4 separate regions of the Homo sapiens genome follow, and all the other regions are linked to region 4. The links come from fine-mapping of genetic effects on gene expression. A gene starts in region 4. Each other region holds a variant in brackets. All regions are shown on one strand. Distances are from middle to middle.

What was found. PIP is the estimated chance that this variant, and not a neighbour inherited with it, causes the effect.
Region 1: its variant is fine-mapped to the expression of DENND4B in whole blood (TOPMed, PIP 0.93).
Region 2: its variant is fine-mapped to the expression of DENND4B in whole blood (TOPMed, PIP above 0.99).
Region 3: its variant is fine-mapped to the expression of DENND4B in whole blood (TOPMed, PIP above 0.99).

What each region holds. Positions count from the first base shown.
Region 1 is chr1:153,865,845-153,873,844 of GRCh38, forward strand. All of the region lies in intron 1 of GATAD2B (GATA zinc finger domain containing 2B), which reads right to left. Among named protein-coding and RNA genes, the nearest start is that of GATAD2B, 53 kb to the right of the region's middle. The variant C/T (reference allele first, on the strand shown) is at 3,712.
Region 2 is chr1:153,821,104-153,829,103 of GRCh38, forward strand. GATAD2B (GATA zinc finger domain containing 2B) reads right to left here. Exons shown (of 11, transcript NM_020699.4): 2 at 6,910-7,245. The coding sequence starts at 7,244. Among named protein-coding and RNA genes, the nearest start is that of SLC27A3, 50 kb to the left of the region's middle. The variant G/A (reference allele first, on the strand shown) is at 3,436.
Region 3 is chr1:153,742,229-153,750,228 of GRCh38, forward strand. It overlaps INTS3 (integrator complex subunit 3), which reads left to right. Exons shown (of 30, transcript NM_023015.5): 4 at 4,729-4,842; 5 at 5,051-5,135; 6 at 6,461-6,527. Among named protein-coding and RNA genes, the nearest start is that of INTS3, 18 kb to the left of the region's middle. RefSeq lists enhancers at 2,547-3,286, 3,287-4,026. The variant T/C (reference allele first, on the strand shown) is at 4,941.
Region 4 is chr1:153,941,961-153,950,208 of GRCh38, forward strand. It overlaps DENND4B (DENN domain containing 4B), which reads right to left and starts at 4,758. Exons shown (of 28, transcript NM_014856.3): 1 at 4,341-4,758; 2 at 2,098-2,437; 3 at 918-1,170; 4 at 596-665; 5 at 227-396; 6 at 1-153. The coding sequence starts at 2,414. It overlaps CRTC2 (CREB regulated transcription coactivator 2), which reads right to left. Exons shown (of 14, transcript NM_181715.3): 12 at 7,155-7,424; 13 at 6,498-6,684; 14 at 5,715-6,369. The coding sequence ends at 6,149. RefSeq lists enhancers at 3,010-3,109, 3,430-3,479, 3,948-4,448, 5,260-5,329 and a silencer at 3,970-4,869.

The sequences.
Region 1 (8,000 bases), 76 kb before region 4:
GGGTGCAGTGGCACACACTTGTAACCCCAGCATTTAGGGAAGCTGAGGTGGGTAGATCGCTTGAGCCCAGAAGTTTGAGGCCGGGCACAGTGGCTCATGCCTGTAATCCCATCACTTTGGGAGGCTGAGGCGGACGGATCATCTGAAGTCAGGAGTTCAAGACCAGCCTGGCCAACATGGTCAAACCCTGTCTATACAAAAATACAAAACTTAGCCATGTGTGGTGGCACACAGCTGTAATCCCAGCTACTCAGGAGACAGAGGCAGAACAATCGCTTGAACTTGGGAGGCGGAGGTTGCAGTGAGCTGAGATGGTGCCACTGCACTCCAGCCTGGCAACAGAGTGACACTAGGTCTCAAAAAAAAAAAAAAAAAAAAAAATTCATAGCTCTGTACACTAAATTAGTCATAATAGAGAGGTGAGAATGTTATAAGTATAGCTAATCCAGTAGCAGCCTAGCTATATTCTCTAATGACAATTCATGTATTTTAAAAGAGCAAATAATGATCCAAATAAATTATTTCTCAACCAAGCTTCTGAGATTAGTGGGCCTGTGTCCTCTACTTACAACTGTACAGGTGAATGAAAGACGATTTGTCTTCTAAACTGTAAACAAAATGCACTTTCAGTTTCTGGCAAAAATCACATAGCAATGGTCTTGCACCATCTCCAACCTGCCCTAATGCAAACCAGATGGCTGAGCTCGTTCCAAGCTATCTAATGCTTCCTATTATCAATCAATCCCAGTAATTATTCTGCACTTCCCAAGGATATAACCTCTCCATTTCAGTTTCCTAATGAATTTATACACACACACAAACCAAACTGCAAATTCCTCAAATGGGGGTAAAAGGCCCTAAAGAAAAGCAGAATGGGTACAGAAAAGGTTTCATTTTTGATGCTACAAAGAAGTGAAATTATTTCCAATGTACCTTGTTTTGTTTTGTTTTGTTTTGAGACGGAGTCTTGCTCTGTCGCCAGGCTGGAGTGCAGTGGCACAATCTCAGCCACTGCAATCTCCGCCTCCCGGGTTCAATAGATTCTCCTGCCTCAGCCTCCTAAGTAGCTGGGATTATAGGCGCACACCACCACACCAGCTGATTTTTGTACTTTTAGTAGAAACGGGGTTTCACCATGTTGGTCAGGATGGTCTTGATCTCCTGATCTAGTGATCTGCCTGCCTCAGTCTCCCAAAGTGCTGGTATTACAGACTCAAGCCACCGCCACCTGGCCTCCAATATACCATTTTATAGGATTACCTTAGAGGTTGGAATTAACTGTCAGAATGGAAAAGGGTATGGACAAGGGCTTGAGAAGAGCACACCTCGGTGTGGTATGGGAACGCTACTATTTCTAAGAGGAGACTTAGATAACATAGAACCAAAAGAAACCACACTGATCTCCTTACATGACAGAAACAAACAGAACATATCAGACCCCAAACTGCTTATTATACTACAATATATCTGGCAAGGTTAGCAACCAGGAGGTTAGAAATAAATTTGGCAAATCAGAGAAAATAATCTGACATGAATGATTATGGAAGACACCCGCTTGGGAGGCTGAGGCAAGAGGAGTGTCTGGACTCAGGAGTTTGAGGTCACAGTGAGCTATGATTGCACCATTGTACTCCAGCTTGGGTGACAGAGCAAGACCCTGTCTCTAAATAAATAAATAAATAAAATCAAGGACCCCAAAGAGAGCAGTAACTAAAAGAGTCACATAAGAGGCCAGGCGCGGTGGCTCACGTGAGCCTGTAATCCCAGCACTTTGGGAGGCTGAGGCGGGTGGATCACCTGAGGTCAGGAGTTCAAGACCACCATGGCCAACATGGTGAAACCCTGTTTCTACTAAAAATATAAATACAAGCCGGGCATGGTGGTGAGCATCTGTAATCTTAACTACTCAGGAGGCTGAGGCAGGAGAATTGCTTGAACCCAGGAGACAGAGGTTGCAGTGAGCCAACACGGTGCCACTGCACTCCATCCTTGGCGACAGAGTGAGACTCCGTCTCAAAAAACAACAAAAAAAAGAGTCACCATATTAGAAACAGAATTAAAATAAAATTTTAGGCCAGGCACAGTGGCTCACGCCTATAATCCCAGCACTCTGGGAGGCTGAGGTGGGCAGATCACCTGAGGTCAGGAGTTCAAGACCAGCCTGGCCAATATGGTGAAACCCCGTCTTTACTTAAAAAGTACAAAAATTAGCCAGGCGTGGTGGTGCACACCTGTAGTCCCAGCTACTCAGGAGGCTGAGGCAGAAGAACTGCTCGAACCCGGGAGGGAGGAGGTTGCATTGAGCTGAGATCGTGCCACTGCACTCTAGACTGGGTGGACAGAGGCAGACTCCATCTCAAAAAAAAATAAATAAATAAAAGAAAATAAAAATTTTAAAATTATTAATGCATTTAAAAATAAACCCATTCCATGTTAACATAACTTCTTTATGAAAAATATTTTCCAAAATAACAGAACAATTTAGTGAGAAAAGTGGCCTTGTTTTATATTTTTACAAATCTCTTTAATGTCTGGCTTAATAGCAGACAGCTGGATTCTCATAGCTGCCTCTGCATTCAATGTGCAGTGATGTTGTTCTAGTTAACAGCATGGGGGACGGGGTGGGGGTGGATGTGGTCTCACACAGATACACAGGAAGGTAGGAGTTCTTTTTTAAAAAATTTAAAGTCTTTAATAAACTTATGTTTTAAAACTAAGTTCTGAAATAATTTTAGACTTACAGAAGTTTCAAATATTCTTCACCCTGCTCCCCTAAATGTTAACATATAAACACAGTACAATTATTGAAACCAGGAAACAATAGTGTTTATTAACTACTCTACAGATCTTATTCACATGTCACCAGTTTTCCCACTAATATATATACTATATACTTTTTTTTTTTTTTTTTGAGAGATTCTTGCTCCGTCACCCAGGGTGGAGTGCAGTGGCACCATCTTGGCTCACTGCAGCCTCCCCTCCTGGGTTCAAGCCATTCTCCTGCCTCAGCCTCCCGAGTAGCTAGGACTACAGGCACGCACCATCACACCTGGCTAGTTTCGTATTTTTAGTAGAGACGAAGCCAAGATACTTAGAAGCCACTGTGTAAATATCCCATCTCCAATCAAAATTCCACATATTAATTTTAGCATACAAAGACAATTCTTGCTGGGCACAGTGGCTCACGCCTGTAATCCCAGCACTTTGGGAGGTCAAGGCAGGCAGATCACCTGAGGTCAAGAGTTCAAGACCAGCCTGACCAACATGGTGAAACCCCCTCTCTACAAAAATACAAAAGTTAGCCAGGCATGATGGTGGGTGCCTGTAGTCCCAGCTACTTGAGAGGCTGAGCCGGAAGAATCACTTGAACCCGGGAGGCAGAGGTTGCAGTGAGCCAAGATAGTGCCACTGCACTACAGCCCAGGCGACAGAGCAAGACTATATCTCAAAAAAAAAAAAAGACAACTCTTGCCTGCAACAAATACTGTAGTATTTGCCTAATGTTTCCATTATTCCTTTTCTATTTATCAACTTGAGTTTCACTGCAGAAAACAATTGTTTTCTTTCCCATATTTATTTATAGCAGCATAAACTTATGGATATTTATTTTACCCCATGGGTTATAATCTATTTATCATTATTTGTTTTTCAAACTGTCCCAGATCTGGCCATTGAAAGCTCCTTCAAGCTGGTTCTCTATTACTTTTTTGG[C/T]AATTTATTAGCTTCTGGTATCCACACGATGTTCCAGGTTCATCATCTTTTTTTATCTGCCCTAGCCATGTCTCCAAGCAGCTCTGGTTCCTCTTATTGGAGAATGGTGTTGCGAAACCAAGATCTGGTGTCAGGTGTGCTCACTGCTAGGTGGTGTCACTACTTCCAGGCCCTTTCAGAAAAGGAAATAAAATGCATGCATACACACGTAACATCCATATCTTTTTCTATATCTATATTTGCATATGTGTGTACCACTTGAAGATCCCTCATCAGAAAATCCAAATTGGGCCAGGTGTGGTGACTCACACCTATAATCCCAGCACTTTGGGAGGCTGAGGCGGCAGATGCCTTGAGCCCAGGAGTTCAAGACCAGCTGGAACAACATGGCAAAACCCTGTCTCTACATTTTCCTTTTTTTGAGATGAAGTCTGGCTCTGTCATCCAGGCACAATCTCGGCTCACTGCAACCTCTGCCTCCCAGATTCCAGCAGCAATTCTCCTGCCTCAGCCTTCTGAGTAGCTGGGATTACAAAGGCCTGCCACTATGCCCAGCGCTAATGTTTTGTATTTTTAGTAGAGATAGGGTTTCATCATGTTGGCCAGGCTGGTCTCGAACTCCTGGCCTCAAAAGATCCACCTGCCTCGGCCTCCAAAGTGCTGGGATTGCAAGCATGAGCCACTGTACCTGGTCACCCTGTCTCTACTTTTTACTAAAAAAAGGAAAAAATCCGGCCAGGCACAGTGGCTCACGCCTGTAATTCCAGCACTATGGGAGGCCAAGGCGGGCAGAATCACGAGGTCAGGAGATCGAAACCATCCTGGCTAACACAGTGAAACCCCGTCTCTACTAAAAAAATTTAAAAAATTAGCCGGACGTGGTGGCGGGCACCTATAGTCTCAGCTACTCAGGAGGCTGAGGCAGGAGAATGGCGTGAACCCAGGAGGCAGAGCTTGCAGTGAGCAGAGATCGCGTCACTGCACTCCAGCCTGGGTGACAGAGCCAGACTCCGTCTCAAAAAAAAGGAAAAAATCCAAAGTACTTCAAAATGTGAAAAAAATTCCACATCAAAATGCTGTCAAATGCAGTCAAAACTTTGCTTTATGCACAAAATGTTGTTATAAAATGACCTTCAAGCTATATGTTTAAGGTATATATGAAACAAATCAATTTTGTGTTTAGGCTTGAGTCTCACCCCCATGATACCTCATTATGTATACAGAAATATCCCAAAATCCAAAAAAATCCAACATTGGAAACACTTCTGGTTTCAGGCATTTTAGATAAGGGATACTCAAACCTGTGTATATGTGTATATATGAGAACCCATTATTTCATACTGATACTAGAGAGAGGTTTTTTTTGTTTTTCCCCAAGACGGAGTCTTGCTCTGTCGCCCAGGCTGGAGTGCAGTGGCACGATCTTGGCTCACTGCAACCTCTGCCTCCCCTCTTGCCTCAGCCTCTGGAGTAGCTGGGATTACAGATGGGTGCTACCACGCCTGGTGTTTTTTGTTTTTTGTTTTTTTTTGAGACAGTCTCGCTCTGTTGCCCAGGCTGGAGTGCAGTGGCGCGATCTCGGCTCACCACAACCTCTGCCTCCCGGGTTCAAGTGATTCTCTTGCCTCAGCCTCCCAAGTAGCTGGGACTACAGGTGAGCACCACCATGCCCGGCTAATTTTTCTATTTTTAATAGAGACGGGGTTTCACTATGTCAGGCAGGCTGGTCTCAAACTCCTGACCTTGTGATCTGCCCACCTCAGTCTCCCAAAGTGCTGGGATTACAGGCGTGAGCGACCACACCCGGCCACTTGTTTTTTTGTATTTTTAGTAGAGATGGGGTTTGCCATGTTGGCCAGGCTGGTCTCAAACTCCTGACCTAGTGATCCATCTGCCTTGGCCTTCCAAAGTGCTGGGATTACAGGTGTAAGCCACTGTACCCAGCCAGAGAAAGAGGCATTTTTAACAGCCTCTTAAATTTATTAGAATCGTGGATATTTTCCTTGATATTACTGAAGCAATTCTCCTGCCTCAGCCTCCCGAGCAGCTGGGACTACAGGTATGCACTGCTAAGTCTGGCTAATTTTTGTATTTTTAGTAGAGACGGGTTTTACCATGTTGGGCAGGCTGGTCTCGACCTCCTGGCCTCAAGTGATCCGCCCACTTCAGCCTCCCAAGGTGCTGGGATTACAGGCATGAGACACCGTGCCCAGCCTGAATTGTACACTTTTAAATGGTTAATTCTTTAGCAGGGCATGGTGGCCCGTGCCTGTAGTCCCAACTACTTGGGGGGCTGAGGCAGGAGGATCACTTGAACCCAGTAGGTCAAGGCTGCAGTGAGCTGAGATCGTGTCACTGCACTCCAGCCTGGGTGAGAAAGTGAGACCCTGTCTCAAAAAATAAATTAATTAGTAAATTAATAAATAAAAGTTAATTTGATGTTTATGTGAAATTTAACTTAATTTTTAAAAAGCAACCTAGGCTAGGCGCGGTGGCTCATGCCTGTAATCCCAGCACTTTGAGAGGCTGCGGTAGGCGGATCACTTGAGGCCAAGAGTTCGAGACCAGCCTGAACAACATGGTGAAACCCCATCTCTACTAAACATATGAAAAAGTAGCTGGGTGTGGTAGCGTGTGCCTGTAATCCCAGCTATTTGGGAAGCTGAGGCAGGAGAATCACTTGAACCCGGGAGGCAGAGGTTGCAGTGAGCTGAGATCCCGCCTCTGCACTCCAACCTGGGTGACAGAGGACTCTGTCTCCAAAAAAAAAAAAAAAAAAAAGCAACCCAGTAATTTCTAAAGGTTAGCAGCAAATGTGAACTCTGAAACCCTATCAATGAACTTTTGTATTATTACATTAAAATACATTGGTCTACTTTATACTTTGAGTGGATCTCTCACCAAATCTGATTTTGTCACATAATATATTGGTCATGTGAAAACTTCTAGTTCACTAAGTCATGCAGCTCTTTCGAAGGTTGACATATTACATAATATCAAAAAAAAAAAACCCCACAAAACTAACTGGGAAGTGGACCGTCTCATGGTGGAGTATATAAACTTTCCAAAATTCTCATTTTTGCTTTAATTTTATCACTGGGCAAAAATAGTTGTTTTCCTTGAAAATTTTCAAGAAAGCATCTGCCAAATACCCAAGTCTAAATAACGTACTTTGTTGGTTATTCTTTCATCAAGTAAAAATGCTGTTCTATGAAGAAGACAACTAGTTAGCTGGAAACCCAAATAACTGTAAAAGTACTTTTCCTTAGACAACCACAGTACTTCAATATATAACAGAAGTGTTTTTTGAGTACTTCCCATTTTATCACACAAAATATTCAAAAGCCAAGTACTAAAAGGTCAAGATTAAATAAAATTAATTTTTACTGCTTCATCAAGAACATTCTTAAATGAAACTTTTTTTTTTTTACTGCAAATTTAAACTGCATGACAATAAAGAACACAATGCCTGCTACTAGTTTGGTGCTATTGCTCAGGGTTACCCTAACGTTTTAATCAGCATTGCTTTTGGATATCACTGCAAATGTTAACACAGGGAAGAAGGCAAATGATGACTTAGTATTATTATGAAACTATTCTGATCTCACAGACTCCATGAAAGGAGTCTATTCTCTAGGATTCCACAGACTACACTTTGAAAACTGCTAGGCTACTCTAACACACTTGTTTAATAGGTAACCTACCAATTCATATTTATTTCCAAGTTTAATGCAAACTACTTGACAGCAAATCTCTCTTCTTTGTACTTCGCTTTAATACCCCGCAACGATTTGAATGTGTCCCCCAGAAGTTCATCTGTTGGATACTTGGTGCCCAATGCAGGCGTGTTAAGAGGCGAGACCTTTAGGAAGTGCTTGAGCCATTCTCAGATTAATGGGTTATTCAGAGAAGGGGCTAGTTAGCACAAGAGTGGGTCTGTAATAAAAGCCAATGTGGCTGTCTCTCGTTAGTCCCCTCACCATGTGATGCCCTGTGCCACTCTGGAACTCTGCAAGGTCCCCACCAGCAAGAAGGCCCTCAGCAGATATGGCCCCTTGACCCTGGACTTTCCAGCCTCCAGAGCCGTGAGAAATAAATTTCTTGGGGCTGGTCATGGTGGCTCATGCCTGTAATCCCAGCACTTTTGAGAGGCCAAGGTGGATATATTGCTTGAGTACAGGAGCTCCACTCCAGCCTAGGCAACATAGTGAGACCCCATCTCTACAAAACATTTTTAAAGCAATTTAGCTGGGTGCAAAGGCACATGCCTGTAGTCCTAGCTACTTGAG
Region 2 (8,000 bases), 120 kb before region 4:
CCTGAGTAGCTGGGACTACAGGTGCACACCACTGTGCCTGGCTAATTTTTTATTTTTTTGTAAGGGGTGGGGGTCTTGCTATGCTGCCCAGGCTAGTCTTGAATTCCTGGGTTCAAGTGATCCTGCTGCCTCAGCCACCCAAAGTGTTGGAATTACAGGTGTGAGCCACCATGCCCAGCCAGGACATGGATACTTTTGAACAGGGAACCCCGATCACTGGAATAAGCAATTTCCTAACAGGGTAAATCTGAGTTGCTAAAATCAACCAAACTTAGGTAAGGAAATAGAATAGGAGGATAGAAAGGTAAGAATGACTATCTTGTGAACTATTAAATTTGTCTAGATTGCTGGCCACAGACACAGCAAGCTGAGAAGGTAGAAATACAGAAAAAGCCACTAGAGGGAGAAAAGAGCCTTTCATTCTCTAACCCCAAATATGAGGAGTAACAGGCCTGAATAAAGTGTCTGCATTCTTTTTTTTGAGATGGATTCTGGCTCTGTCGCCCAGGCTGGAGTGCAATGGCGCGATCTCGGCTCACTGGAACCTCCGTCTCCTGGGTTCAAGTGATTCTCCTGCCTCAGCCTCAGTAGCTGGGATTACAGGTACCCGGCACCGCGCCTGGCTAATTTTTTTTTGTATTTTTAGTAGAGACGGGGTTTCACCGTTTTGGCCAGGCTGGTCTCAAACTCCTGACCTCGTGATCTGCCTGCCTTGGCCTCCCAAAGTGTTGAGATTACAGGCATGAGCGACTGTGCCCGGCCTGAATTCATTTTTAAAGCGTGATTTACTTCTCATTTCTATATTCCTTTATACTCCCCCTCTATGATTAACATGGGTCATTTTGGGTGGGCAGATCACTTGAGGCCAAAAGTTTGAGACCAGCCTGGCCAACGTGGAGAAACCCTGTCTCTACTAAAAATACAAAAATTAGCCGGGCATGGTAGTATACGCCTGTAATCCCAGCTACTCAGGAGGCTGAAGCACAAGAATCACATGAACCTGGGAGGTGGAGGTTGCAATGAGCCGAGATTGCACCACTACACTCCAGCCTGGGTGACAGAGCAAAACTCTGTCTCAAAAAAATTAAAAATAAATAAAAAATAAAACACCGGTAATTTTGGAATCTGGAAGATTTTTCATTTAGAAGCTCTTTCTATTCTGGTCCTGGCTGGATATATACATTACAGATTATTTCTAAGGTAAGGAATTCTTCCTTGCTCAAATGAGTGCCACTTAACTGCTTAGGAACTGCCCAGTACCAAGACAGAGATATTACTGGATGGAGATTTGGGAACTGTATGCCATTTATCAGGAAGTTATATCTGAGAACAACTTTAAATGATTATTTTATTCCCAGATATAAACACACCGGTATTAGGTAGATAGCACAGATAAGGCAAAGCCAAAGCCTCTCTGTTTTTCTTTTGAGTCGGAGTCTTGCACTGTCACCGGGGCTGGAGGGCAATGGTGCAATCTCGGCGCACTGCAACCTCCTCTCAGGTTTAAGTGATTCTCCTGCCTCCTGAGTTGCTGGGATTACATGTGCCCGCCACCACACCCGGCTAATTTTTGTATTTAGAGACGGGGTTTCACTATGTTGGCCAGACTGGTCTCAAACTCCTGACCTCGTGATCCGCCCGCCTCAGCCTCCCAAAGAGCTGGGATTACAGGCATGAGCCACCGCGTCCAGCCTCTTTTCTTGTATTTATTTTTTCTTTTGTTTTTTGAGACAGGGTCTCACTCTGTCACCCAGGAAGGAGTGCAGTGGTGCAATCATTTGTGGCTCACTGCAGTCTCAATCTCCTAGGCCCAAGCGATCCTCCCACCTCAGCCTCCTGAGTAGCTAGTTTTTAAATTTTTTGTAGAGAAGGGGTCTCCTTATGTTACTAAGGCTGGTCTTAAACTTCTAGGCTCAAGTGATTCTCCTGCCTTGGCCTCCCAAAGTGCTGAGATTACAGGCGTGAGCCACCATGCCCTGCCTCATTTCTTAATTTTAAAAAACTAATGAACTAGGATTCTGGCCTCATTTGTTAAACATTCCAAGAGAGAAATTATTTTGCTCTTTTCCTAAACATATATATAATTTACAATATTTGGGGTAGTTAAGTATGAACTCCTACCTATTAGAGAGATATTATTAAAAGACCCACTTGGTGTGACATCACTTGTGACTTAGTCTGGCATATTCTCAGAAGCTATAAAGCTCCTAATCCTTATCCCAGTAGTAAAAACAACTAAGCAGACAACTGCTGTGTCTCTCTAGAATTCTAAAACATTAGTAGTGTTGGTTTCATACATACCTTATTTCACAGGTATCGTAACTTGCCCAACTGATGGCAAAATAAGATATTTAGGCTATTATGACATGGCTATTATGTTAAGAACTTCTCTTGCCTTCTGCTTTCAAATTCTTTCATTTTTTCTTGGTAGAGATGAGGTACCACTATGTTGCCCAGACAGAGCTCAAATTCTTGCCCTCAAGCAATTCTCCCACTTTGGCCTCCCAAAGTGCTGGGAATACAGGCATGCACCACTGCACCCAGCCCTTTCCTCTTTTTATCACTATCAAAGAAACTATGGTTCTCCTTGCTGGGAATCTATCGGTTTTGCTTTTTTTTTTTGTTTTTTTGTTTGTTTTTTTTTTGAGACAAGGTCTTGGTCTGTCACCCAGGCTGGAGTGCAGTGGTGCAATCTCTGCTCACTACAACTCTACCTCCTGGGTTCAAGCGATTCTCCTGCCTCAGCCTTCCAAGTAGCTAGGATTACAGGCACCCGCCACCACGCCTGGCTAATTTTTGTATTTTTAGTAGAGACAGGGTTTCACCATGTTGGCCAGGCTGGTCTCGAACTCCTGACCTCAGATGATCCTCCCGCCTCGGCCTCCCAAAGTGCTGGGATTACAGGCGTGAGCCACTGTGCCCAGCAGTTTTGTTCATTCTTATACATCTCGGGGCTAAGTGGAAATAGCTGTCAGTATATCTGGAGTCCCAAGCTTCCAGAGGATTGTGTTTCAAAAGATCACCCCATGTTGGGTACAGCGGCCCATGCCTAATAGTCCCAGCTACTCAGGAAGCCAAGTGGGGAGGACTGCTTGAGCCCAGGAATTTGAGGAAATAGTGCACTATGACAGTGCTTGTGAACAGCCAATGTACGTCAGCCTGGGCAACACAGCAACACCTCATCTCTTTAAATGATTTTTAAAAATCACCCCAAAATAACATTTTTAAAAAAATTGTTGGGTTTGGCTAGGTGTGGTGGCTCACGCCCATAATCCCGGCACTTTGGGAGGCCAAGGCGGGTGAATCACAAGGTCAGCAGATCGAGACCATCTGGCCAACATGGCGAAACCCCATCTCTACTAAAAATACAAAAATTAGCCAGCATGTAGTCCCAGCTACTCAGGAGGCTGAGGCAGGAGAATCGCTTGAACCCAG[G/A]AGACGGAGGTTGCAGCGAGCCAAGATTGCGCCACTTTACTCCAGCCTGGGCAACAGAGCGAGACTCTGCCTTTAAAAAAAAAAAAAAAAAAAAAAAAAGTTGGGTTTTCAGGAAGTCTGACTTTTTAACATATACTGTATCTATCTGCAATATAATACAATTCCAATACCATTAATAAGATCTTATCAAAATGTCTACAGGAGCAGGACTGAAAACAGGAAAAAAAAAAAGAGTGTTAACAAAGTTTCTATGAAAAATGTTGGGCCCGGCATGGTGGCTCATGCCTGTATTCCCAGCACTTTAGGAGGCAAAGGCGGGCAGATCACTTGAGTCCAGGAGTTAGAGACCAGCCTGGGTGACACAGCGAAACCTCGTCTCTACTAAAAATACAAAACAATTAGCTGGGTACAGGGGCACACGCCTATAGTCCCAGCTACTTGGGTGGCTAAGGAGCGAGGATTGCTTGAGCCTGGGAGGTGGAGGTTGCAGTGAACGGACATCATGCCACACTGCACTCCAGCCAGGGCAACAGAGTGAGACCTTGTCAGGAAAGGGAAAGAGAAGGAAAGGAAAGAAAAATGCATTTAAAAGTTCCAATTTGGAATGTGAAGAATCCACCTAACATTTCTTTAACTCTTTCTCCCCAATGAAGTGGGATAAGTTACTTGCTCCAGAAGGGTAAGAGAGATTATAAAAGCCAAGTAGGTTGCTCAGGTTCATGATCTCATTCACCCATATCCTTTTCTTGCAAACAATCTAAAAATGAACCTACTTATATAATATTCTGCTGGCACTACCTATAACTTACAAGTATTTTTCTCCTCTTCCAGGACCTCTAGGGAATCTGCCTGAGGTTTCCTAAGAGGTTTTTTTGTGGTTGTTTTTGCTTTTTTTTAAAATGGAGACAAGAGTCTCACTCTGTTGCCCAGGTTGGAGTGCAGTGGCACGATCTCAGCTCACTGCAACCTCTACCATCTGGGTTCAAGCAATTCTCACGCTTCAGCCTCTCAAGTAGCTAGGAACACAGGTGTGTGCCACCACACCTGGCTAATTTTTTCATATTTTTAGTAGAGACAAGGTTTCACCATGTTGGCCAGGCTGGTCTCAAACTCCTGACCTCAGGTGATCCACCCGCCTCGGCCTCAAAGTGCTGGGATTACAGGTGTGAGCCACCGCTTACTAAGAGTTTTTAATGTTACTACCAAGAATAATGTTTGCTTATGGAGCATGGTTTTAAAAAATAATCCTGGGACAAGACCAGTAAGTAGACATCAAAAGGTAGAGAAAGTAACATGTGTAAAGTTATAACCATTTCTTTCTTCTTCATTCTCCACCAGTCCAGCTTCTTAGAGATTCTGCTTTGGATGAGTCCTACAACAAACTCAGCAAGGTCATTTGGAGGGCAACTCAACACTGAAGACTAATTCTCACAGCTATCAGCTGTTTCTGAACTATTTATAAACTGACTTTTTTTTTTTTTTTCAGACGAAGTCTCGCTCTGTCGCCCAGGCTGGAGTGCAGTGGAGCAATCGCGGCTCACTGCAACCTCCACCTCCCGGGTTCACACCATTCTCCTGCCTCAGCCTCCCAAGTAGCGGGGACTACAGGCACCTGCCACCATGCCTGGCAAATTTTTTGTATTTTTAGTAGAGACGGGGTTTCACGGTGTTAGCCAGGATGGTCTCGATCTCCTGACCTCGTGATCCACCCGCCTCATGATCCACCCGCCTCGGCCTCTCAAAGTGCTGGGATTACAGGCGTGAGCCACCGCACCCAGCCTAAACTGAATGTTTTAAAAGCTAGGGTTGGCTGGGTGTGATGGCTCATGCCTATAATCCCAGCACTTTGGGAGGCAGAGGTGGGCAGATCACCTGAGGTCAGGAGTTCGAGACCAGCCGGGCTACCATGGTGAAACCCCATCTCTACTAAAAATACAAAACTAGCTGGGTGTGCAGGCACGCGCCTGTAATCTCAGCTACTTAGGGGAGTAGAGAGGCAAGAGAATCACTTGAACCCAGGAGGTGGAGGGTGCAGTGAGCCTAGATCGTACCATTGCACTCAGCCTGGGCAAAAAGAGTGAAACTCCATCACACACACACACACACAACTTGGGTTATAAGCTGGGTGTGGTGGCTCACAACAGTAGTCCCAGCACTTTGGGAGGCCAATGTGGGAAGATCACTTGAGGCTGAGAGTTTGAGACCAGCCTGGGCAACATAGTGAGACTCTGTCTCTACAAAAGTATTCAAAAATTAGCTGGGTGTGATGATGCACACCTGTAGTCCCAGCTACTTGGGAGGCTAGGGCGCGAAGATAACTTGAGCCCAGGAGTTGGTGGTTACAATGAGCTATGATCATGCTACTGCACTCAAGACTGTGTGACAAAGTGAGACCCTATCTTAAAAAAAAAAAAAAAAAAAAAACTGGCTGGATGCTGTGGTGCATGTCCATAATCCGGCACTTTAGGAGGCTGAGGAGGGAGGACCACTTGAGCTCAGGAATTCGAGACCAGCCTGGGTAATATGGCAAAAACCTGTTTCTATAAAAATACAAAAATTAGACAGGCATGGTGGGATGTGCCTGTAGTCCCAGCTACTCAAGGGGGGTGGGGTGTGGGTTGGGGTTGAGGGGGGAAGATCGCTTGAATCCAGGGTATCAGGCCACTCACTACACGCCAGCCTAGGCAACAGAGCGAGACCTTGCCTCAAAAAAAAAAAAAAAAGCACCAAAAAAACTCATAAAAAACAAAAAGAAAAAAAAAACCCCAACTAGGGTTATCTATACTATGATTCACTGCACAGGGAGACTCAACCATTGGCCAGTTCCAGGTACCTCTCCTTACTGTGTGCTCTACAGTTTCAAGTACTCAACCTTGAAAGACACCAGAAAAAAAGGCCTGGGAAAACATGTTGCATGTGTGAGTGAAAGAGAGAGTAACATACATGTACAAGTGAATGTATATGTATATGGGGGAGCTGGGGGAAGTGGTACAGATACAGCAAGAATGCAGAGACTTACCACATGAAGATAATTTGCTTTCTGACACAAGAAAAGCTAGGCCCATGTTTTTGGATGTAATAAAAGCTGGGACTCCACAATAAATACATCCTAAAACTCCTGGAATTATCTGACAAAAAGACTATTTTTCTCCTCCTAAGACGGCCATGAAGATTAGAATGAAGGTATATATTAACTCACTTCCATTTGGCCTATCAGCTCTCTAGTGCCCCCTTTATCTAGAAATGACCATTTTTTCTCTTAAGAGTAAGAACTACGATTCTCTGTAGGCTAAGCAGTTTTTGAGGCACCTGGTTTCATTTGGAAATAAAATGAATTTATGGTCAAACTCGATGATATATCTTCTTTTAAGAATCTTTAGGATGAAAAACACCCTCCTCTCATTGGAATTCATTCCATTTTCACAGGCTTTATGAGACGACCCTATCCCTGGAGGCAGCTGAACTGAGCCATACCTCCGTCTAGCACTCATATCCACAGGCTCATCATTGATGTTTTCTTTGCCTGGCCTTCCAGCAGTCCTGTTGTCTCCATGAGGCCTGAGATTCCCGTTAAGTTTTTCTTCATAGCCCTTGACACCACTGCCATCCTGTTTGGTGGGTAACTCATGTGGCACCTCAAGATTTGCCAAATCCTTCCTTTTGAGCAATGCCAACATTTTCAGACGTTCCATGGCCTCATGCCCCTCCATTTTGAGTCGCTTTGCCAGGACATCATCTCGCTCATCTGCTGGGTCCAAGCTCCGCTTCAACAGATTCAAGCGAAGAGCATCTTCTGTCATTCTATCCATCCTATGGAAAGAAAAATACAAGTAAGATCAGAATAAAGTCCCTTAAATAGTCCATTTTTAAAAAGGTGGAATGGTGAAGTTATTAACAAGAATCTCTCTCTCACACATACACACACACACACACACACACACACACACACACACAAAGTTCAAAGTTAACTAAGCTATGTCCTACCTGATATTGTCCTAGAACATTTATATTAAAGGAGATTTCTGGGCATTCAACCCAGCAATTTAAGTAAACTTAAATCTACATAAGCAAGGCCTGTTGACACGTGCCCTTAATTCTACATGGATACAGATTGAAAATCTTTTTTTTTTTTTGGCTTTTATTTTATGTTCAAGGGTACATGTGCAGGTTTGTTATATAGGTAAACTGCATGTCACCAGGGTTAGCAGATTCAAAATCTGAAGACATTTAAGATGCTTTTTAAAATGAAGAACTCAGGTGCTTAGCCTGATAAGAAGCACTATTTTTTTCTTTACTCATGAAGAAAAAGTGTTAACGACAAGCTAATTAATCATTATCTTCCCTTTTCACTTTGATTTTTTTTACACTAACAAAATCTAAATGTAGGCCGGACATGGTGGCTCAACTTGTATTGTCAGCTCCTCCAGAGGCTGAGGTGGGAGGATGGCTTGAGCCCAGGAGTTCAAGACCAGCCTGGGCAAAATGGTGAGACCCCATCTCTACAAAAAAATTAAAAATTTGTCAGGCATGGTGGCACATGCCTGTAGTCCCAGCTACTTGGGAGG
Region 3 (8,000 bases), 200 kb before region 4:
AATTCTTGGTTTCCCAGGAAAGCCAAGCCCATTCTGGGCTGGGACCTTGTCGAGTTAAATTGCTGTTTCATTTTTATACTGAATTTATCATCAAGATCCTTGAAGACAAATGAATGTTTCCAGTTGGGTGGTTTTAAAGAGTGATATGATCCAGTCCAGCACATCCATTTTAAAGAAATTGTTGGCAAAGATGAGAGTAGATGGGATGGAGTTAAAGTTTAACTTCCTCTTGTGTGGGTTTTTTAATCTCTGTGTGTGTGTGTGTGTGTGTGTGTGTGTGCGTGCGCATCATTGGCTGTGTGTGGGTTTTTATAAATACCATTCAAATTCCATTTAGTCATCTCAGTGCAAATTAGTCTTGCCTGCTGGAAAGTTTTGTTTGTTTGTTTCAGGTGATCTGAACCAACCTGGGTAAATCAGTAAACCTAAGTGAAGGGGGCAGAGTATGTGTGGTATTTCTAGCTCTTTGCCTGGCCTATCAGTAAGAGGCCACTGGGTTCTGCAGTGTAAATGCTTATTATGTCATGAATTTGGCCATCCAGACACAGCAAGAGACTAGAGTATCTCCTCTTCTTTTTGCCCTATAACAGCCCCATGTGGGAGGCCCAGGCCCTCTGGGGAAGTGAAGCATTTGCCTCGGGTCTCATAGCTGGTTGACACCTTTGCTAGCATTCATGTTCACATGCTAAAAGTTTCCAAGTAAATCCCCTACCTGTGAGCCTTCCTGGGCCAAGCCTCCAGGTCAGGCCTCTTCAGACAAAGGCAGTAAAGACAGAATTAGGAGGACACAGTTTTAGGCGGGTGAGGAACTATCAAGTAGTGACTCATTCAGAGACCTTGAGCCAGGTCAGAGCATGATGGAAGAATTAGTGACGTATCTCCCTAGAGCTTTGCTCCTTCTCCCTAAAAGGGTGATTATTTTGTAAAAATACTTCTGTCCTACAGAAGTTTTAGGTGGGAGTTACTGATGAGGACTGATTGTAATGCATCATTTTAGGCTTCAGCTTAAAGCAATGGGACTGTTTTCTAAGGATTTGTATTTGGGGTTAATTCTGCCTTTGGAACAGAAACCTCAGGATGTATTTGAGATTTAGTTGTTCTTGAATCTTCATGGGCTGAGATGGGAAGTGGATATGGTGGAGAAGTGTGGAAACTGAGTCTTGAACAAATAGAATACTGCTATAAGGAAGGTTGAGCTGAGGAGCCTCTGTTAGTACTGGCAGGCAGGTTCAAGGAGTTAGGGCCAACTCTCTGGGACTTAGTGGGTGGGATTAGGATGGATTGAACAGGTGAACAAGAGAATTCAGTTAAGGAGAAAGCAGGTCAGTATTGGGAAAGAGTAGAGGATGCATGGGGTGGATTTTGTCTCACTTGTACCTTCTTGATTTGCATCAGCCCTCTTGGCAGCCCTTAGGAATGTTTATATCCTTTGAGTTTATTTATTTTCTATTTGGTGTCTGAACTAAACAGCTGGGAGCAGGCCTGGCTGGGGAACTGTGGCAAGGAGGGAGGCTAAGGTAGAGTCCTAAGCTGTGCAGGTGCTGGCAGTCAATAGATAAAGGTAATGGGAAAGGGTCTAATGTCAAGGTCTGTCTTCATCAAAGGGTCAAGGACTCAGGCCCAGGCAGCTCTTGGTCTAGGTATTTCTCCCAGCAGGCAGCTCTAGAAAGAAGCTTGGGGGCTCTGGGGCCTAGGCTGACACATCACTGCTCTTGACACATTCAGGATAGATGCCATCCAGTCACCAGTCACTTTTACTTTTCTTTGAGACTCTCCACTTCTCTTTTCCTCACTGAGGGTGTGCATGTGCGTGTGTGTGTGTGTGTGTGTGTGTGTGTGTGTGTGTGTGTGTGTTTCATCTGCTGCTTTTCCAAGCTGGTCAGCAAACCGACACAGAGGTCGGTAACACAACTGGCAGCCTTAGGTGTATGAAACTCTCGGTTCTCATTTGTTACCAGCAGTTGTGGTTAGTAAAGATCCCAGATGGAACATGGAACTAGGCAGACAGTATCTGCTGTCTTCATCTGACCCTGTATCTCCTGAGAGAACTTGTCCTGCTTCCCTGTCCTGAGTCTGTTCTGCATTCATTTGAACAACAAGGTTCTTCTCTAGTTAGTAATGTCTGTCTTTGGCCTGACACAGATTTTCCCTCTGCCTCTACTTCCTTTGTCCTCTGCCCATTCTGTGACTTACCTCCAGGGGAGGGTCCAGGACTTAACTATCAATATTTGACAGTAATTCACTGGGACCCTTCATCTCTTTCTTGTTTCCTTATTTGTTTTTTTGGTCTCCCAACCATCAACCATCCCCCAGAGGGAGTCATTCTCTTTTGGGGATGAAGTTTATGGCACATGGAGGATCTCTCACTGTGGGTATTTTCATCATCAGTTGGTTTGACTTAACGACAATAGAGGCAGAAGGAAGTGGCAATAGCTAATCTGTTAGGAGTCTCTCAAGGCTAGAGAGCAGATGGTACTGAGGGGTACATTTCTTTTGAATGCATAGGATGAAAGAGTTTAGAAATGTTGCTGCACGGAGTGGCTCATGCCTGTAATCCCAGTGTTTTGGGAGGCCAAGACAGGAGAAAGGTAGAGTCTCAAAACTATTACAAACTCATACCGCTATTCCCAGCAGCCTCTTCTGGTTATTTCTAACGTTGATACAAGAGGTGGTTAAGCATGTTATAGAATTGGAGTGCCTGGATTTGAATCCTGGTTCTTCCTCTAATCTCTTATGTCATCTGGGGCAAATAACTTTTAAGCTCTCCATGCCTATTTCCTCATCTGTAAAAATAATTATAATAAGTAGTACTATTTTAAAAGGTTGTTATGTATATCAAATGCAGTAATATATACATATATATATATTATTGTTGTTGATGCCATCCTTGCTGTATTATTGCTTGCTATAGTATAACAACATCCTTGCTGTACTTTTTTTTTTTTTTTGAGACAGGGTGTCTCTGTCACCCAGGCTGGAGTGCAGTGGTACGATCTTGGCTAACTGCAACCTCCACCTCCTGGGTTCAAGTGATCCTCCCGCCTCAGCCTCCCTTGTAGTTGGGACTACAGGCACGTGCCACCACACGTAGCTAATTTTTGTATTTTTAGTAGAGATGGAGTTTCACCATGTTGGCCAGGGTGGTCTCGAACTCCTGACCTCAGATGATCCACACGCCTCGGCCTCCCAAATAGTGCTGGGATTACAAGCATGAGCCACCATACCCGGCCCTTGCTATACTATATGATTATTATTTTTGATGCCATCCTTGCTACTGGTCTTCAGAGGTTGTGGGAAGCTACCTGCCTAGTTTCTACTCTTTCTGATGAGATCCTGACGGGATAGAACTCAGCAGGCTAAGGAAGTTGCTAATGAGGCCCCCTAAGGTATTCCTCCAGGAGTCTGGTCTCACAATAGAGACAGAGTGAAAAAAAAAAAAAAACTAAGGGGGGAAGGGAAGCAATAATCTCACAGAAGAAATTAGCATGCCCTCCCTTACCTCCCCCAGGATTTGGTATGCTAAAGCACCTTTCCTTTTTCAATAAGTGGCAGAAGGAAAGGGCATCACAGAGAAAAGAATAAAGATATTTAGTTCAGCTGGGTATGGTTGCTCATGCCTGTAATTCCAGCTACTGAGGAGGCCGAGGTGGGAGAATCACTTGAGGCCAAGAGTTTCAGCCTAGGGAACATAGTGAGACCTTGTCTCTAGAAAAAACTGTTTTAAAAATTATCTGGGCGTGGTGGTGCATGCCTGTAGTACCAGCTACGCAGAAGTTCGAAGCTGCAATGAGCTATGATCATGCCACTGCACTCCAGCCCAGGCAACAAAGTAAGACCCCAAGTATAAAAAAACTAAAAATTCAAAAAAATATCAGTTTTGGTTCTGTCCTTAACTGTCTAGGGCCCTGCCCTGGATCTTCTTCCCTTACTACTCCCTTTGCTGTATCTGACTGGGTCAGTACTGGTCTAAAAACCTCTTTGGGATCCTTTTTGGCTTGTTCAACCAAACCCATTTTGCAGTGACCTTTTACTGACTGGCAGGTGAAAAGCAGATGGCCTCCACCTGGTTTTGCTCAGCCTGTGGCATCAAACAGTATGACACTTCCTAAGATGGGAAGTGGGGGGGACAGGGATAGTACTAGGAGCCTTGCCCAGCAGGCTTTTCTCTCCCCTGCCCCCGAGACAGAGTTTCGCTCCGTCGCCCAGGCTAGACCCAGGCTAGAGTGCAGTGGCGCGATCTCCGCTCACTGCAAACTCCGCCTCCCGGGCTCACACCATTCTCCTGCCTCAGCCTCCCGAGCAGCAGGGACTACAGGTGCCCGCCACCGTGCCCGGCTAATTTTTTTGTATTTTTAGTAGAGACGGGGTTTCACCGTGTTAGCCAGGATGGTCTCGATCTCCTGACCTCGTGATCCACCCGCCTTGGCCTCCCAAAGTGCTGGGATTACAGGCGTGAGCCACTGCACCTGGCTGCCCAGCAGGCTTTTCTGCCTCATTAAAGGATAACCAGTACCTTTTCCCCACTCTGTGTGACAGAACAAGGGATAGGTTGGGAATGCAGGACCCCTGTGGAAAGAAAGTGTCCAGAATGAAAAGTATTTCATTGCTACTCGGTGTCTTATTGGTGTTATTTAAGTTTAAGGGATTAGAGGGCAAGGGGTCCACTGTGGGTGGGGTGAGGACCTTATCCTCAGCTTGCTGGCTGATCACAAACTTTACTTCTCACAGTGTTACCGGGACTTAGCTCTGGTGAGTCGTGATGGCATGAATATTGTCCTGAATAAAATCAACCAGATACTTATGGAGAAGTACCTGAAGCTGCAGGATACCTGCCGTACTCAGGTAAGGCCAGAAAGAAAAGACAAGATCCAGCTCAAAGAGAGAGGATGGATCTTCTCTCTGTCAGGAACGGGAAAGAGGAATCAGGGCTAACACACCCC[T/C]ATCATTGTGTGTCTAAATTGTAATGTGCTCCTTTCAGTTGTAATTGAATTAGCTCCCTTCTCAAACTCACAGTTCCTGCTCTTCATCTGTTTTTCCCTCTTTCCTTTAGTTGGTGTGGTTGGTACGGGAACTGGTGAAGAGTGGGGTTCTGGGAGCCGATGGTGTTTGTATGACGTTTATGAAGCAGATTGCAGGTGAGTTTGATGGCAGGAGCATAAAGAAGAAAGGAGGAGAGCCCAGAGACTACATAGAGACAATGGAGAATGATTAAGTGCCAAAGGGATGGAATTCTTGGATTGCTTAGACTGTTTCCTTCTGATACAGACATCTTCTGGCCACATATGTTGTAGAAATAAATTGATTGAAAAATCATGGGGGGCCTTTTAAAGCAGTAAGTCTTGCCTCATTTTCTTTCCTGCTAAACCCAGGGCTTGACAGAATATTTGGCCTATTTTAGCCAGTCTTCACTCTGAGATTTTATAGCATTTCAGAGCAGGAAGAAATGGGGAGAGAAGTGAGGGCAATTAATTTGTTCTCAAGTCCCTGTGCTTTCAGAAACCTAGACATCTTCCCTGGCTCCACCCCCATTATCTGAACGCTTGCTCCCTAATAATTAAGCCCTTTACTGGGGCCAGAATGAGGGACAAACTATGTCACAGAACAGACCCTGACATTTAGGTTTTATTCTCATCTTGGCATCGGTGACATCTGTCTGAGCTATCGCATATTCAAGCGGCTACTCCCAAGATTGCATGTGTTTGTTTAAAAGTGACCTGCTACTACCTCACCATTAGCCCACTGGGACTTGCTTCCTCTTTAAAATTTTATGTAACACTGATGCTCCTGTTTTGATGTGTATGAACCTTAATCTATGTGATATGTGACTTTGTGAACATTGAATTTTTTAATTGAGACCTGGGGCAAGGCATAGTTGTAGCTATTTTTATCCTCTTTCCTGGCACTTCTTCCCTGTTTGGCACTTCCAGCCCCTGCTTCTTATCCCAAGACTGGTATGGCATTGCTGTGTGTTAATTCTGCCCCACAGAGTTTCATAGCAAGCACTAAAGACTGTTACCTGGAAATAAGAAACTCTTGGCCTGTTGGGGGCCTCAGTGCAGGACTCAGGACATCCAGTTGCTAGACTGCAGCTGTTGTCAGCCACCTGTACTTCTCAGGCTCTATCTGAGATATCATCCTTTCTTTCCAACTGTGGGCTTCTTATATCTACTTCTCAGACGTTCATTTTCAAGGGCCAAAATGTTCCCACTCCAACTCACAATCTGTGGGAAAGTAGCAGCTCTGGTTTCTAGAAAAATTCAGAACCTTCCCTTTCCTTCTTTCTGGAGGCAAAGGGTGAAACTTTAAAGCCTGACAGAACAGAAGGCAGTTTATCTCAGCAGTGAAGGGATGGCAGTAATGGGATGGCAGTCAGGGTGGACCAGCAGAATGGGTGAAGAGATGTATTGGATTGGCTGACTTGCTAATCGGAGCTATTCTTTTTTTCCCCTTTTGAAATCAGGTGGAGATGTTACAGCCAAAAATATCTGGTTGGCAGAAAGTGTTCTGGATATCCTGACAGAGCAAAGGTAGCATCCACCACGAAGGGTGGGGTACAGGCCAGATAATGGCCATTAGGAGTGTGGGTGTGGGAAATGGGGATGAAAGGATTGTGTGGCCCAAGAACACCTTAAGTTAGAGAGGGGGAGGCAAGGAGAGGGAGAGACAAGTGTATTGTTGGCAAGTGAAGAAATTAATGCCCAAGGAATGAAGGAATGGGAAAGAGGTCTTTGCCAAAATATCGCATAGCCCAGAAAAACTGGCTTCATCTGATAAGGGTTTATTTTTGATCCAGACCTCCTTGGAATGTTTATCTTAGGGGGAAGTTGGGGAGGAATGAGCTCAGTAGAATTGGGCCAGCCAAACACCCACGCCTGGCAGGTATCCTTTTCTCCCCTGCAAGCTTCTCCATCCAACCCCTGCTCTTTTTGAAGTGGCACAGGGGGCAGTTGGGGTGGAGCAGGTAATAGAGATTAGTGAATCCTGCTGGAGTTTGCATATAGGGTTTGGAGGTTCCAGTGGTAGAGGGTGCATCAGGGGGTACATATTGGGCTTTCTGGCTGATTCTTTCCCTTATCCATCAAAATAAAGGGCCAGAAATTTTATGAGGGCTATTCCACATCTGAACTTGTTTGGAGGTGAGGCTTTCCCCTTGGTTTCAGTCTTCCTCTTGCTTGACTTCTAAGTCTCTTTTCTGATTGAGGACACCATAGTAGTCAAATGATTGAGAGGGCTAATAGTGTCCATACTATCTGTAGTTCAGAAGAATGGACCTCCTCCCAACGTTCACACTTGTGAAAGAGATGGCTGTGTGCTGTGCTCTGCCCAGGTCTGAGAGCCCTGCCCTGTCTGCTGTGCAGTGCCACCTAGTGCTCTGGGCACGGATGTGCAGCCACATCTGGGCCTGGAGCCACTTCTGTTATTGGTGTCATTGCACTAGCACGTGAGATCCTAACAGTCTCTTCTTACCAGATAGGTCTTTGTTCCTTTTTACTGTCCTGGGTCAGGGGGCCTTTCAACTCTTTCTTTCTCTTTATTATGCCATTCCAGGATTCAGGTAATTTCGTTACCTTTGCTAGCAATCTTTCTAAAAAGTGATTTTTCTTATTTTATTCGTGGTACCAAATACGTCCTGTCCCCATACCTTAAAGCTGAATTTCCTGTACAGGCATCAGATAACAGCCAGATAACTGCCCTGTTTTCTACCCTCCAAAAAACTTACATCTTTTGGTGAAAGTCAATACCTAGAAATTTAAAACTGTGTCCTCTCCTACACCCTCCTTCTCACTCCCTTCCAAATGTTTCTAGGGCTGTGGAGTTAAAAGGTAGCAGGTAGGGGAGGAAACGTTCCCCAGTAACCTTGGCTAGTGTATCCATTCTGTGAAAAGAAAAGGCCACAGAGTCTTTTAATTAGGTGGCTTGAGTAGTTTTCCGGAATCAGGATGTGGCCTGCTTGGACTAATTAAACACCATCTCATCTTCCTGCAGTTCCCTGCCTTCCA
Region 4 (8,248 bases):
CAGCACAGCGATGGCACGCCGGCTGCGCACAGCTCTGCCCCCCAGTGCCCGACCCCGCTCCACGGCGCTCAGCAGGCCCAGTGCCCGTGCCTGTCGCTCTGATAGCCTGGCCCTTGGGAACGCCTCGTAGAACTGCAGGGCGGCACCATACACCTGGCAGGGGGCAGAAGGGTAGTCAGGCAGGCCCTGCATAGCCTGGACCCCTTGCCACACTCCACACACCCACCTTATCACCAGCTGCACCCGTGAGCACAAAGGTGGAGAAGACGGGCACGGGGTACTTGGTCTGGGCAGGCCAGCACTCGATAGTGGCCCCCATGGGCAGGCAGAAGACGGGCACTGACTCGGGCAGCGGGAACGCCTCATTGTCCTCCTCCGGGTAGCGGCCCAGCAGCTCTGCACCCCCAGCATAGTTGGGGGTACCCAAAAGGAGCAGGGTCCATCAGACTCCAAGGGAAATGAACCAAGGGATCCCAGAGAAGGCCCGAGTAGCAAAGAGAAAGTAAACTCTGGGGACACTTAAGGTGCCTGCCAAGAGGCACCAGGGCAAAGGGATGTAGGGTCACAGGATTGGAGGGATAAAGGGGCCACTCACCTGCCTCGTACACCAGCGTGTTGGCCTTCGCCAGGCCCACCTTATAGCACAGGTACACTGCTGGGCCCCACTACCCCAGAAATGGCAAGAGACAAGCAGATACATAGCTAACAAAGGTTTCTGGGGTCCACTTTCTCTCTACCACCCCTAAATGTTCTTTTGTCTTTAAAGCTCCCATTAATCCCAGTGCCCCAAGACCAGAGTTACCCCTCTGGACTCACCCCTGTGGTCAGAGCCTTGGTCCTGGGATGCCCTTTGTTCCCAGTGTCCACACCCACTCTTACACCAAGAGGACCAGGTGTCAGCTCTTGGCCCCACTCACCATGCCAGGGTTGAGGTTGCGGGGCAGCCGGCAGTAAGTATGAGGAGTGCCCTCGCCCTTACTGGGCAGCACCAGGCAGAGGTCAGTGATGCCCAGGGCATGCAGCCCTGCCCCCTCTGCTGCCCGCCGGTAAGTGAGGTAGGTGCGGGGGTGCCCGGGGCCTGGAGGGGCCAGGTTTGCTGAGTGGCTGTAGGGTGTCGTGTCAAGCACTTGGAAGCCAGGCTTGGGACGTTCCTTCCCCTCATACAACACCCTTGGCACAGAGAGCAAAGATAGATGTTGAGAGGTCAGGGTAGAGGACAAAGACCCAATCCTGCCAGATCTGCCTATCTAATCCCCTGAACTTGCCTTGTACCCACAGCCTTGTCAAACTCTAACACTAGGGCCCACCTCTTCTTGCTGAACTCTGCCCTCCAGAATCCTGTGCCCTTTCTTTGGCCTTTGGCCTTATTTCATGGTCAGCAACAATCCTGCATGCCTTCTATGGCTCTCATACTCATTAATAAACACTAAGGGTCAGCTGGGCACGGTGGCTCATGCCTATAATCCCAGCACTTTGGGAGGCCAAGGCAGGTGGATCACCTGAGGTCAGGGGTTCAGGACCAGCCTGGCCAACATGGTCAAACCCCATCTCTACTAAAAATTCAAAAATTAGCTGGACGTGGTGGCACATGCCTATAGTCTCAGCTACTCAGGAAGCTGAGGCAGGAGAATTGCCTGAACCCAGGAGGCGAAGGTTGCAGTGAGCCAAGATCACACCACTGCACTCCAGCCTGAGTGACAGAGAGAGACTCTGTCTATAAAAAAAAAAAAAAAAAAAAAAATAGTTATACAAGCTACCACTGACTGACTCTGTTAAGTCTGTCACATGGGTTATCTCATTTAATCTCGACCATCCTATGAGGATGAATTATTTTCCCCATTTGACAGATGAGGAAAACAGGCCCAGAGGAGCTCAAAAACCTGCCTAAGCTCTCAGAGCTAGCAAGGAGCAGCACTAGCACATGAAATCGCATCTGTAAGGACTAAGTACATACAACTTCAGTCCTTCCTTCCTGGCCCCTGGCCCACCAGGCTCCCATCCCCATTGCCCTTCCCTTGTTCCATAGTCCTACCTCTCCCTGTCTCACTGGAGTCCCTCCCAGCCTCCCCTGGTGCCAGCATGGGTAGGGGCACACACCCCAGCTCAACGAGGGGGGGCTTGTCACGGCCCCTGCGGTAGCAGATGACGGGTTGAGTTCCACCCAGAAGTCCAGCACTGAGTTCCAAGGGGTGGCCCCCAGCAGAAGCCTGGATGCATGTGTAGCCCTGGGGCACTTCCTCGCCCAGTGCCCTAGCGATGACTGCCACATCTGTGATGGGCTCAGCTGGCCGGGGAGGGCGCAGGGGCCCACTGGGTTCAGGAACCCACGTTTCCTCAGGGATGGGTGCTCCGTTCCCTGCAAGCCCAGCTACCACGAAGTAATCCACCAGCCGGGGGGGCCGCTCCTCCGCCATGGCCCCCCCCTCACTCACTGCATCTGGAATGGTCAAGTGGGAGAGAGATGAAGCAAGGAAGGCTGGGGATGCCATGGCAACCAGGGTACCCTCTTGCTCCCCTCCTCTTCCTAGTCCTTCCAAAGAAAGGCAGGATAAGGGGTCGGCCAATCCTGAACTCTTCCCCCTGTGACATCACTGCCCACCACAGCTTCTTAAAGAGACCAGATCCCTCCCACTTAATGGTCCTGGCACTCCCCTCAAAGAACCTAAACTCCACCACACACAGCTAACCTGAGCTATGACATTCACATTGTCCATGTGTCCCTTTTAAAGGCTCACCAGTTATAACATCACAGAGATCACAATCTTTTTTGTAATAGCCTTCCATGACATCATTCATGCTGGCCATGACATCATACCAACCTTACAGTCTTTTCAAGGGTTTCTGACCTTCCTACTCTAGTTATGACACCATAAGAACCTTGTGATCCTGCCAATGTTCTTAAAGAGCCCACTCCTAGGTTTTTAAGAGGACCCCATGGGTTTCTGAGAAAGCCCACAAAACCCAAGCTTTAAGAGTCTTTTCAACGAACCCAAGTGTCCTTTCTCCTAGCTTAACTCCACCAATCTGGCCCAAAATCCAGTGTTCTCACACCTCCAGGATCCTTAGGTAGCTCGTTAGATCCAAAGCAGTTGTGAGAGACAAGTCCCGGCCATCCCACACCCTCCACCATGGAGCCCAGAGACAGAAACAGGCCCACAACAGCCTAGTTCTCACCTGCCTCCATGGCCCAACCCCGGGGAGTAGGAGCCCCAAGGGTCCTGAGGCGCCCCAGGGTGCAGAAGCTGGGAAAAAGCCTGGTGGGTAGCTCGCAGCAGGGGCCCAGAAGCGTGGGGGGTGCTTCAGAGGGGAAGGGAGGTTACTTCCTGAAACAGTGGAGGGGAAGCTGCAACTCAGAGGAAGTCAGCCTATGGGTGTGTGTGGTGGCGGTGGCGGTGGTGGGGTTACCATTGAAGGTGCCAGCACAGCATTACGCCAAGTTGGAATCTCAGACTATAGGATCCTGAGCAAGGCAGAGGAGGCTCAGAATGGTTCCAGGATGTGCAGTCCTGCTAACCTCCTGCTGTTCCCCCAGAGAACAGGGAATAAGGAATCTCATAGAGCCAGGCTGGCTTTCTTCATCACCTGGCCTCTGGACACACACACACACACACACACGCACACACACACGCACACACGTACACACACCAACCCCAGCTAAATTTAGACTCCACTTCTGGGAGGTAAAGCCAGGAGTCAGCGTCAGCCTCTTGATTTAATTCTGGGGCACAGACCTGTCCCTCATCCACTGAGGGCGAATGGGAGCCCTATGCCCAAGGCAGCAGGCAGAGGCCATTAGGTGGGACCTTCTGAGGGGCAAGTGGGTGGCACCCATCCGCAGGACCTGCGCACCGGGGCCTCCCCTCACCAAGCCAGGGAAGAGTCCTGCAGAAAGCAGCCCTTTCTCCCTAGGGAAGACAACGGGCACAGGGCCCACTCCGGGTCCCCACGCCCGCGTGCCGGGTGACGGGAAGTTCGGGTTGGGGCAGAGGGCGCGCCGAGGGGGAGGAGGCTGAGGAAGGAGCAGGAGGGCAGAGAAGCAGGCGCGCCGGCGGCCGAGGACGTGACGGCAGCAGCGCCGGCCGCCGCGTGACCCAAGCGGGAGGGAGGGCGGCTCCGACTCCGGCACCCACGGGAGCAGAAGGGGGTGCAGGAGGCCGGGCACGGCGAGCTAATTGCGGGAGGTGCCCTCCCCTCCACTTTCACTTCCCCAGGAGAGAGGAACCGGAACCAGATGTGCAGTGAGGGACAGCAGCTGGGGGCCATCCCCCACCCCGCCTGCCGCCCGCGCTCCCTCCTGCCCGTCCCCGCCTGCCGCCCAGCCCGGTCCAGCCCCTACCTGCCTGTCCCGCGCTTCCCGGCCGGCCGGCCCGCTGGCGGGTGGCTCGGAGGGCGAGCTGGCGGGCCGGCGGGCGGCGGGGCTACCCGGCCCCAGACATGGCGCACCCGACTTGGGCGCCGCTCCCGCCCGGGCAGTGAGTGAAGGAAGAAGAGGCGGCCGAGGACCGCAGAGCGCGGGGCGCAGTGGAAGGAGATCCGGGCGGTCCCCGCGTCCCCGCCGCGCTGCGCCACGCGGGGACTGTGCTGCCGCGCTGCTCGCTCGGCCGGCTCGGTCCTCCCAGCTCCCGCGGCGCCGGGGACCCAGCGTTCCTCCGCGCGCCCCGCTTTCTCTACTCCCCCAACCCCCGCTCCGGGCCGCGGGCGCCGCCGCTACCCCCACCCCTCCTCCTCGGCCGGCGGCCGTGACCCTGGCAAGCGTCTGCCCAAAGCCCAGCCGCCTGCAGCCCGACCCCTGGCGGCTGGGAGGGCCCCCTGCACCCAGGTAGCTTCCCACCATCCAGCCCGTGCCTCAGGACACTGACCCCAGGCGACCCAGAGGGCCGCGGCGCGCTCCCTTCCCGCCTGGGTCCTGCAGTCAGATGTGGCAAGCATGATGTGGGCGCAGGTGAAGTCCCGAAGGTCTAGTCTACGGGGACCCAGGTGGCTCCCCCTACTTCCAGGTTTAGGGCACAGGGCATTCCCTTTGGACCAGAACCAGAAGCTCTCAGTTCTCTTTTTTGAAAATGACAAGAGCTTTGGAAAGAGGAAGAGAGGCCAGGACTGCAGGGTGTGGAATAGAGCAGTGGAGGTGGGGGTAAGGTAACTGCGGGGCTCTACTTTTCTCACTATGCGGGTTGGGGGAGTGAGGGGTGCAGAGGCCCACACGGCTGGTCCAAGGGCTGGCAACCCAATCCAGAAAGAGAAAACCTTCAGAACATGCATGGCACTGAAGGATCTGTTTAATTAAAACTAAAATGAATGAGTGGTGAAGAGTGGAGAGGGTGAAGTGAATGCATGCATAGTGAGGGAGTGAGGATGAAGGCTTGCTTCCCTGAGACCTAGGAGCACTTCAGACCTGTGGGCTCAGCCAGCAATCACCTCCTTACCCGACTCACTGCCAGACCTAGGGTTGAGGAAGAGGAATAACTTGTCTGATCAGTCAAAGCCCCCATCTGATGCTGCAGCAGGGCCCTGGACAGACAGGAGGGCACATGAAGTGATTTCCTGCTGCCGTGGAAGCCTACATCCAGCTGGGTACAAATTCCGAGGCTGTGGGGCCCTTCCACAAAGCACAGTGGTGCTAAGAAGATGCAAAAAGCCTAATAGATAAAAAGACCCATGGCCCTATAACTCCCTAGATCCCCAGCCATGCCCCAAATAACTAACCACACCAAGGGTTTGATATGATTTTTTTATTAACATATAATAATATATTTAATAAAAAATAGTATCCACTCTGGCTCTCTCCTCCACTGCAAGGGGAAGAGTGGTGAGGAGGGGCTGGCACTGCCCACCCCTAGGCATCCGGAAAAGCCCTGCTTCCAGGGCTCCCCTCTACCCCTGCTTTCCAACAGGCTCTGACCTCCAGACAGACGGTTCAAAGTTACAAGTGCTTTAGGCCCTCCCTTGAGTTCCCCCAGGCCCATCCCTTGCGCAGAATTCAGGGGCCACCTGGACAAACCCCTTGCTTTTTCTCATTCTTGGCATCCTTCATTCATGCTAGAAAGAGGATCTGGGGACAGAGAGTAGAGTCTCTACCTGCCAGGGGGAAGGGAGGAAAGGAATGGTGGTGGGGGATGGGGCCAAGAAGAGGGATGGTGATGAGGTGCCCTCATTGGAGCCGGTCACTGCGGAATGACTCCTCCACAGCAGGATCAGGCAGCAGGGCACAGGGGTCACTCAGCATGTTTAGCCCTTCCAGGCCCAGTGGCTCCATGCGCAGCTCATCTTCTAGCCCAAGCCCTAGCTCCAATCCAGCTGCTGACACCTCAAAGCCAGGCACTCCGGCCAGGGCTGCTGCAATCTCCTTAGAGAAACCTGGAGAGGAGTCCCCTGTGGGTAGAAGAGACAGGTGAGGACCCCATGTCCTGTAAACTTTTCCAAGACCCCTCAATCTCCTACTCATTAGTGAATGTGTCACTTCCTCCTTCCATTTCCCATCACCACCCACCCCCATTCACCTGTGAGGATGATGTTAGGCCCTGAGCCATGGCGGGAACAGTGGGTCAAGTTCTGGTGGTTGAAGGTGTGGGGATCCTGGGGGCCACCCATTGGCCCCTCACCCCCTAAAAATCCAGGCCCTTCAGAAAAGCCAGGGGGATCCAGCACCAGGCTGGCTGATGGGCTCTCCATGCTGAACTGCTCCAGCTATAGACATACAGACAAATCTTTAGGAAGTAGGATTTAGAACTGGTGTCCTGCCTAGCCCTGCTAACATATCCCCTTTGCCCAGCAACCTTCATCCACCCCAGGAACAGAGGCAATGACAGAGGGAGGTGGCAGCAAGCAGAGCGACAGAAGCGAGCACGGGGCCCGAAGTAAGTATGGGCACCGTACCTGCTGGGCCAGAGCATGTGCATGCCAGGAAGAGAACGGGTCAAGGCAGAAGTCATCAAAGAGCAAGCTGAGCAGAAATAGAGGGGCAGGAGTAGGGTCAAACGCAGGAAGAGAGGAGCCCCAAGCTGGCAGTGCTATGTTACCTCCGGGGAGAGGAGATCTCCCCACCACCCACCCCACCTAGATCTCCCCATTCACAGTGCACCAGCCATGCCATTCAGGCCCCATTGACCCACCCTCACCCACTCCCCTGCTTTTGAGCAAGGAGCCTGAGTACTCACATTCCCCAGGTTGAAGTCACTCATTGGCCGGTGGTAAGACTGTTGCCCATGCCCACTGGGCCCAGGTGGGTACGGTGTCCCATAATGAGACTGCCTGCCTGGGGGCTGCCCACCTGAGGACTGCACTGAACAAGACTGAGAGGGCAGCCCTGGCTGCTGTAGAGACTTTGGGGTGTGGGGCTGGGTAGGCAGAACCAGACTTGGGGAGCTGTATGGGTATGGGGGTAACCGCTGGTCAGTGGACAGTTTACTGGTATCCAGGGGGACGCCCTGAAAAGAAGTAAAAAGAGGGAAGCTTACTGCTCAGTGTATACCCCAAGAACTCTCAGTCAGAGCTTCCCACCTTCTTTAGCTACAACCATTCCCAAAACAAACATGACAACATTCCACATTCTCACGGGCATCCCTGGGGTTGAGTGCAGTTACTCAACCCCAGGGATGTGTATTAGTTGGCAGGGTGTGGTGGCTCATGCCTGTAATCCCAGCACTTTGGGAGGCCCAAGGCAGGTGGATCACCTGAGGTCAGGAGTTCGAGACCAGCCTGGCCAACATGGTGAAACCCCGTCTCTACTAAAAATATAAAAATTAGCTGGGCATGGTAGCAGGCGTCTGTAGTCCCAGCTATTCGGGTGGCTGAGACAGGAGAATTGCTTGAACCCAGGAAGTGGGAGGTTGCAGTGAGCCAAGATCACACCACTGCACTTCAGCCTGGGCAACAGAGCGAGACTCCGTCTCCAAAAAAAAAAAAGTGCCTATCAGAATGAAAGTGATATAGTGAGGCTAACACAGGGGTAATTTTAAATCTACTCCAGAAGTAAACTATTCTCTTTTTTTGAGACAGGGCCTCACTCTGTTGCCCAGGCTGGAGTACAGTGGTGCAATCATAGTTGGAACTGTAGCATCAACCTTCCTGGTTCAAGTGATCCTCCCATCTCAGCCTCCCCAGTAGCCAGGACTACAAGCGTGCGCGACTGCACCTGGGTAATTTTTTATTTGTTGTAGAGACTGGGTCTCACCATATTGACCAGGCTAGTTTTGAACTCCCGCCTTGGCCTCCCAAAGTGCTGGGATTACAGGCATAAGCCACTGTGCCT